2 separate regions of the Homo sapiens genome follow, and region 2 is linked to region 1. Evidence: fine-mapped expression QTL. A gene starts in region 1. The other region holds a variant in brackets. All regions are shown on one strand. Distances are from middle to middle.

Region 1 (4,402 bases):
AAGAGAACACAACTTCTTGAAGCAGTTTAACTTTATTTGAAATGTTTAGAGTTGAAGTAGAAGTGCATACTAGGTGAAATTTTTGTCTACCCCTACAGTCTCACACATCACTCCCAATTTCAACATATATTTGAAACATCCTAGAGAACTTGGGCTTGAACTGAGTACAGAATTATGGAACTGGAAACTCAGTCAGTCCCATATTCTGTCTTACGCAGGAATCCCTTCGAAATTGTTTCTTGTGTGTTAATCTAGTTTTTGTTAAAAACAAACAAAAAAGTCAAGGGCCGGGTACAGTGGCTCACACCTGTAATCCCAGCACTTTGGGAGGCTAAGGCGGGCGGATCACGAGGTCAGGAGATGGAGGCCATCCTGGCTAATACGGTGAAACCCCGTCTCTACTAAAAACACAAAAAAATTAGCTGGGCTTGGTGGCGGGCGCCTGTAGTCCCAGCTACTCAGGAGGCTGAGGCAGGATAATGGCATGAACCTGGGATGCAGAGCTTGCAGTGAGCCGAGATCGCGCCACTGCACTCCAGCCTGGGCAACAGAGCGAGACTCCACCTCAAAAAAAAAAAAAAAGTCAAAGAGCTACATAAAAACAACTGTTGATGAAAGAAATACAAATAATATCTGGAGGGTGGGGATGAGAATATTTAAGTAAATATTTACTTTGAATGAACAAATTCAGCATTCCAGAATTCACACATCTAAGGCACTCTATGGTTAACTGTATCATAATTACCATTATTAATTCAGCAAAGTGGCAATTGTGTTAATTAATGCTTCTGGATAATAAAACTCCAAAAACTGTGAATGTGCCTCAAAATAAAAATGCTCTGTAAAAAGCCTTTTAAACCAAATAAGAAACAAAGATCAAAGAGTGAGGATAACTTGAACATACAGATTCTTGTCACTATGCCCAGCAAGAAACTTGAGGGAGAAACTAAAAGACATAATACGAAGCCCCTAGAAGAGAAACCTAACCTCAAGAACTTGAAACCCAGAATCAAGCATGGGACATGGGCAAACAATAAATTTTCCCAAGGAAGTGACAGAGCCCCTTTAACTGCAACAGGCCAACTCTGGAACTCCCCCAAGAATTCATTTATCTTATGATTGTGTAAATGCGTCTCAAGGAGTAGACACACTTTTGTGAAGATTACTCAACATTTGAACCACAGAAGACGGCAGATATTGTTGAACATTTCTGTCCTCACCCCTCAGAGCTCTACTGAGCTATTCGGACAATCCCTACTAAGCGGGTTTACTGCAGTGCATTGAAACAGTCTTCACAGAGATATACATTAAGTCAAGTCCTGAAATGACGAATTCCGATACTCCCAGGCACTGTGCGGAGGCTCAGAAAATCACTCATCTAGGATGCAGAGTGAAGAGGAATTTAATTTTTTTTTTTTTTTTAACTTCACAGAGTTCCCCACCTCTGTGTCGCATAAGCCTGCAAAGGATGCTCCTACACAACTGCAAGGGCATGCAGGGGGGAAGTGACGCCCGCAGGGAGAGGGGAGCAAGATTCCAACTGACCTTTTTGCTGTTTAAAGGACTGAATGGAGCCTGAATGGTGGACCATTTTCACTCTGCGCGTCCCAGCCGGCTTAGGGAGCTGCCCGAGAGGGAGGCGGAGGAACAGTAGCCAGACTCTAGACGCTCCAAGGTCCGGAGCCTCAGCGAGCGCACTGCAATCCGACACCTGCTGTAGCCGGCACTTCGCTCTCCAGGCTACGCGCCCGCCGGTGTCGTTGTCATGGGAACGCGGGAGGGCGGTCTAGCGTCCGGCTCCCCTTAGCGGCTACTCTGGGAACAACCCCGCATCCCCCGCGCGTCCAGTGCCACAGTGAGGGGTGGGCGTTGAGCGGGGTTGGCTGGGAGTGGGAGCAGAAGACTTTACTGGAGGAGGAGATATAAATCGGAGCAAACCTCTAGAGCTGATACTGATGCCCTCTTTGCCAAGCTTTGAGGCTGGTTATTTATTTCCTAAAAGTTGGTAGGTAAACCCTGGGACTTTTAAGGAAGGGCAAAGTTGGTCTGTGCTCTGAGAGGGTATGCAGTGGCAGATGCAGAGACGTTTCTGTTTTTCTTTCTTAAATTTAAGTAGAGGGGGCAGAAAGCCACCCCAGCTTAGTTAGCCAGTAGCATGTTTTATTAGGTAAGCTGTGTTCTATGTCTAGCACTTTTCACTTGAGTTTTCCTCTTCTTCTTCTGCCATTCAGGCCTTGAATCATTTATGATGATGATGACTGAGGACCATTTATAACCTACTTAGTCACAGGGGCTGAAAAAACACTACCCACGATGCTCGATTTAATCTTCATAAAAGCCCTGTAATGTAGGTAAACTATGATTCTAATATTATAAAAAGAAACTTAAGATCAGAGCAACAAAGATTTCTCAAGACCACATAAATCAACACCTTATTTGAAAGAGAAGGCACCCGATACCCAAAGAAGTGAAGTAACTCTTTTTGTTTAGTTTGAGAAGTTTTATTTTATTATTTATTTATATCTTCACCATGTATTTTAAGTTCGTGGTACATGTGCAGGATGCGCAGGTTTGTTACATAGGTAAACGTATGCCATGGTGGTTTGCTGCACAGATCACCCCATCACCCGGGTATTGAGCCCAGCAGCCATTAGCTATTGTTCCTAATGCTCTCCCTCCCCCTCCAACAGGCCCCAGTGTGTGTTGTTCCCCCATTGTGTCCGTGTGTTCTCATCATTCAGCTCCCACTTTGAAGTAACTTTTGAAAGACCAAACTGCAGTGGCCAAAATAGGACCAGAAGCTAGCTGAACACATTTTTCAGTAGGATCTCCTTTCCTCCATCTATCTCTGCTCCCTGATTCAAAGCCCTAAGTTCTTCCTGGAAGATGTAAGATGTTATTGAACAGACACATCGTGAGAGTCCGTTGCTTCCTCAGTTTTGAAGTTTTATGGAATCAACTCAGAATCAGGTGAATAATCCAAATAAAAGCAGATAAAAAATATGCAGAAATTTCCAAACTTTCGATACCTCAAAAATATTGAGTTATTATTGTATGCTGTTTGATTCATCTGTGGTGCATGATACAAAAGAATGAGGGGAATATAGCTTTGAACAAACAGATGCTCCAATTATTTATGGATGCATAACAAACTACCCTGAAACTAAGCTGTAAACTAAAATTTATTATTATTACTTATGGATTTTGCAGGTGGGCTAGATTCAGACAGGCAGTTATCTCTCAGAGTCTCTCTTGATTGTTCAGTAACTGGTCTTAAAGTCATCTGAAGCAAAAAGCGAAATTGGATTCTACTCTCAGTGGGAGGAAGAGCAAACAATGTGCTACCTTCTTTAATGTATCATAATGGTCTTTCCAGAAAGAAATGCTGAGCATTCAATAAGAGCTCAGTATGCAGGCATTGAAGAAATACTTGGTTACAGACAATGAACTCAGTGTGAGTTCACCTCCAAATGAAGATCTAAAACACAGTTCAGAGACTGTCTCCGTAAGGGCTTTTAATACAGATATTGTATAGATGAGGGCATTGAAACCGAGAAGAATAAATGACTTGCTCGAGGATGTTTTTTTTAAATTTTGTTCATCCAGAGTTAAAATTCTGATAGAACTCAGCTTACAGATCATTCTGATGTGAACCAACTCATTGATTCTAATGCAACCCAATTCTCCTACGTGAGGATTAGACAATGAATTTAAGAATGGCAGAAAACTAACACCCAATACTTACTAGTCAGTTATGACCCCTGTAGATCTCATTTAAATGTTTAAAACCCCCTTTTAAATCACCGGTTTTAGAATCAGAAATATTTTTGAAATTTAAACTTTAATTCAATCCCTGGTCAGCAGGACTAGTTAAAAGAATTAAAGTCCCCTCGCCGGGCGGTGGCGGGCGCCTGTAGTCCCAGCTACTCAGGAGGCTGAGGCAGGAGAATGGCTTGAACCCGGGAGGCGGAGCTTGCGGTGAGCCTAGATCGCACCACCGCACTCCAGCCTGGGAAACAGAGCGAGACTCCGTCTCAAAAAAAAAAAAAAAAAATTTAAGTCCCTCTATTCCACATTTCTAGGCACAGGTATCACCTTTACCTTCCTAAGATCTTTTTCTGTTGATCCCTGATTTTCTCCAACCTACTCCCTGATCCAAAACCCAGCAGGAGGCAAATATGTATCTGCCAGAACTAGAAATGAGTTGAGATTTTGAACCTCATTGGATTTTTTTCCAAGGAAAGAATGTTTGTTATTATTTCTAACACCCTTGCACCCTAACCTCCTTGGTGCAGCTATGATTAAACTATCTTGTCATAAAGTTAATTACTTTTCTTAAAATTAGAAACATTTTAGGTTGGACTGCCAGATTGACTAGCAGGGGATTCAAAGAACATCTTTG
Region 2 (4,402 bases), 140 kb before region 1:
TAACACATTTAGATCATACTTTACTTTAAAATATATATCTAGTATTTTGAAATAACAGATACACTCAATTCCAATTCTGAAATCAATATTAATTTCTCTCAATTGGCTTCTCTACATATGTTTAAGAAAATAGAAAAATAGTATAGAATTCCTAGATTGATGCACTTTTAAACATACCACAGTCAGAATTCTGAGTTCAGCTGCATTTGGAATCCTTCATTGCTGACAACAGTCTCAAATGACAATCTTCTTTAAAGCACTCTTCAGTGTGACAACTGAAAGTTCTCCCTTTCACCGCCTGCTTTTTCCATTAACTAGAATGTTACATACTGAGTGCTACACAAAGCATTTGACTGGAGGGTTTTTAGCCTACTCTCTAAATGCCAGAGTTTGAATAATCATTTTTTTTTAAAGATAACTCATCTCTTTATAAGAACATCTGTATTTTTTATTAATTTCATTTTAGGAGTTGGTTATAGGGTGGAATAGGGGGCTGCTTTCATGTGTCATTGGTTAATGTCTATGCATGAGTCACCTAAGTGACATTTAATCATATAACGTCAGTGACATTTTTATGATTTTACTGTCAATTATTAATAATCTATTGTATGTGCCATTTGAGCTGGGCAGATTAACATGGGAGGTGGGAGGTGTGTTTCAGTTTGATAATAGTGGTCTGGAAAATACTAACTTTTTAAACGGTGAACTAGGTAACACTTTTTTGATAGCGGAGTGGAGTTCACCAGGAATTCCTGTAATTTTTTTTTCTGGTTTTAAAGGAAATTGCCTCATTTTCTTGTTCACTGGAGAAAGGTATAATGGAAAGCTTTGTGGTTTCTGAAAAATCCTGCCTGTGTTCAACTTGACATTGCATTGTATTGTCTCTGAGCTGCACATAATGATATGATTGTAATCTGAGAGCACAGGAATTAACTGTCACCTAAAGGTAAACAAGCAAATAAAATTGAATGCTTTTGTCCTCATTTACTTAACATCCACATAAGAGATGCAACAGAGGATTACATTTATTTCTGTTTTAAAAATGCCTCTGTAGGGCAGCTTGTAATTGGAACTGACAAGACACTGAACCTAAGAAGTAACCACTTAATGTATATGGTCTTGAGTTAATAAGCATGCTTTAAAATTGATTTTCTAGCAGGTTCAAGAAATAGAAAAAATAACTTCACACAATGTTTGAAACAGTTAAAGAACAAATGGTATATTACTCTAATATGTAGGTTTAAATTGTCTGTGGCATGAAGGGATTAATGAAAGCAAATGGGTTTCCGTGACTGAAACCCTCATCTGGAATCCTGGTTTGCATCATGCAAGAAGTCAACCACCACAAACAAAACAAGAATTAGTTTTTTAAAACAGAAGTGTCAGAAACTATTCAGTAAACACAACAGTGCTTTATTCTGTAGGTATTTTCTTCTCTACAGTGATAATTCCTCAAAATATTCATATTTTGATTGACTGGTGAGGTTAAGAAGGCTGTGTGCGGAAATACATGGAGAAAGATGACATGGGGAGATGAAGGGCTATAAGCCGCAAGCTAGGGACAAGTGTTTTAAAATTTATCAGGATCTAACTAAGCACAGGAGCCTCAATTTTATTATATTTTCTTAAGTATAAAACATTGAAAAAACCCACAATATTCATGCTGCCTAATAAACATAATTTTCCAGTAATGTGAACATGACCCCTAACTACCCAATTCACTTGTCTCATGGTTTCTATAGTCCCTTGCACACACCTCCATTACGTGCAGTGTAGCACAGTGCTTGACAGCATGGTCCCTGTATATAATTCCTGCCTCCTCCTTACCAGCTGTGTGATAACAGGAAAGTTACGTAGCCATCTAAGCCTTCATTTCCTCACCTATGAAATGGGGGTAAAAATAGACCTTACATTTTAGAGTTGTGATGATAGAAAAGTAGAAGTCATTAAAATCCCTGTTAAGATCCCTGGTAAATGTTAGCTGTTGTAATCATTTAACATTATTATTATTAATATTGAAACTTCCAATCCAGTGTTCACAGCCTGGAGGGCTTGGAGGTGACAGATTAAGGAGGTAGATTTGACTTTCAGT[A/G]TGCTCAAATAACACGGTTTCTGATCTGTCTTCTCTGGCTGCTTTCATGTCTGAACAACTAGAGAACTATTTGATTTGAGCCTGTGATTGATTGAATGTTTAAATATCAAGTAGAACCATTATCTGCACCATTTAACTGGAATGCCCATACATTAATTTATTGAATTTACTTTCACATCCCATCAAACTATGTATACTTTTTTTGCAGAGAAGTTATTGCAGCTCTCATTTTAGAGCTAACATCCTTCAGGGAGGCTTAGGAGATATATCTTCCAAAATAAATTCTTAAGTACTCATGGGAAAAACAAATTGGTGATTCGAGAAACCTCTATGTGTTTAATTACTGAGACATTAGTGTCAGGGGAGAGAAAACACCTTTGACTTATTTTTTGTTTCTTTGTATCATATATGAAATACGACTTCCTAAATAGGCACATTTTTTTCCCCTTATAGTCTTTCTGGGAACTAAAGGCATCTACCCCAACAAATCCATCTCTCACCTAATTTCATTCTCTCAGGTAAATCGTCTCATGTCATGACTTCCTAGCCCTCTGCTATAGACATATTGCAGCTCTACACACAACTGTTGGCAGCTGTAGGAGCTTTTGTGCAGTTTTATTTGTTTTGTGATGGTGGTGGTGTTGCTGCTTATTTCATATTTTGATTGGTAAGGGGAGTTCCCATACTGTAATAGATTCAGTTGAAAATATTTAGTCTACTTATTATTATTTGATCCTAAGGAATAGAAACTTTCTATTATTTGACTACTTTTGTTGAGGTTTAGTGATATTATATTTGTAACAAATTATCTATTTTTACTTAGGGGTTTGTTGATACAAGAATAAATTACAAACAGGTCAATCTAGTTACAGGAGGTTGTAAATTAGCCACACAATTTAGAGCTGCCTTACTTCAGAGTAATGTTTCAGGGTTTTGGAAAGAGATAAATCTGAGAGTATATCTCAGAGATTGAACTGGACACAGAAAAGCCGAGTCTACAGTTAAAGAGACACACCACAGTGCAGCTCTGGTTCCACCTAGCTTACAGACTTGGGCAATAAACGTTTCTGTTAATTCCTTATTTTCTTGTTTGTCAAAATGAGAGTATTACTACCTAATGTCATTGAATTATTGTGAAACTTAAATTAGATAATGTATATAAAGTGCTTACCACAGCTTCTGGTGCAAAAGTGATCAGTGCATATTAGGACAAAGAAACTGAAATGCTTCTTACCATGGTTATTGGGCTAAAAAAGGTGAAGTCCTGAATGGCTATTGTCATGCCAGTGTAACAAAATGGAAAAACTGTTTGGAAAACAAGACTATCTTATTTTAAATCCTGGCTCAGTCATTTATTAGCTGTATGAGATTGTAAAAAGGTAATGATATTATAATATTTATGGCTTAAATCTATGAATACTTAAGTTTTATGTCCTTTGAATTTTACCACCCGGTGTTAAAAACTATAAACATCTCTTGTATATCATTCTAAATATTTTCCCCATGAAAACCAGCTAGATATTTTTATAGAATTGGCATTATACTGCACATTTTTTTACAGCCACTTTATTATATAATTATACACTGTGATCATGTCCTATTATCCTTAAATAGTTTAGAGATTTTCAACATAGTACTGCCTTGTCTGAGGGCATTACGAATTACTATTTTAAATGTTATCATTTACTCTTGACTCTGGAAGTGGTCCTCCCCCACCACAAATTACAATGTGAGAAACATTCTTAAACAGAATTATTTGGGCTAACTTCTTGCTTTTTTTTTTTTCTGTTTTTTTTTTGAGAGGGTCTCCCTCTCTCTCTCTCTCTCAGGTTGGAATGCAGTTGTATAACCATGGCTCACTGTAGCCTCCACCTCTCAGGCTCAAGTGATCCTCCTGCCTCAGTCTCCCGAGTAGTTGGGACTACAGGTATGTGCCACCATACCCGGATCATTTTTGTATTTTTTCTGTAGAAACAGGGTTTCACTGTGTATCTCAGCCTGTTCTCAAACTCCTGGGCTCACACTCCAGATTACTTATCTGCCCTCCTCAGCCTCCCAAAGTGCTGGGATTATAGGCATGAGCTACCACACCCAGAAATTTGGCTAACTTCTAATTGCATTCTCTGCATAAATTCCTAGAACTAATCAAAGGGCAAAATTACCTTTAGGTACTGAACCTTCCTTGTGAAATTGTTTTCCAGAAAATTTGGCTCAATGTACATATTGGCCAGCAAGGAATAAAAATGATAGCTTATAGTTTAAAAGTACAACAAAACCTAATACTGATATAAACAATTTCTAATTTCAAAA

Which allele goes with the higher level. Positions count from the first base shown, and alleles are read on the strand shown. Sizes are in standard deviations (SD) of each study's normalised expression.
For the expression in pancreatic islets of the gene that starts at base 1,737 in region 1, A is the low allele of the variant in region 2 and G is the other (moderate effect, 0.69 SD a copy in van de Bunt 2015).

What was found. PIP is the estimated chance that this variant, and not a neighbour inherited with it, causes the effect.
Region 2: its variant is the best candidate, but not a certain one, in a credible set for the expression of ANO3 in pancreatic islets (van de Bunt 2015, PIP 0.60).

What each region holds. Positions count from the first base shown.
Region 1 is chr11:26,329,465-26,333,866 of GRCh38, reverse strand. ANO3 (anoctamin 3) reads right to left here and starts at 1,737. Exons shown (of 27, transcript NM_031418.4): 1 at 1,546-1,737. The coding sequence starts at 1,591. LOC105376598 (a long non-coding RNA gene) reads left to right here and starts at 1,893. Exons shown (of 3, transcript XR_931138.3): 1 at 1,893-2,005; 2 at 2,232-2,347.
Region 2 is chr11:26,469,904-26,474,305 of GRCh38, reverse strand. All of the region lies in intron 4 of ANO3 (anoctamin 3), which reads right to left. Among named protein-coding and RNA genes, the nearest start is that of MUC15, 100 kb to the left of the region's middle. The variant A/G (reference allele first, on the strand shown) is at 2,093.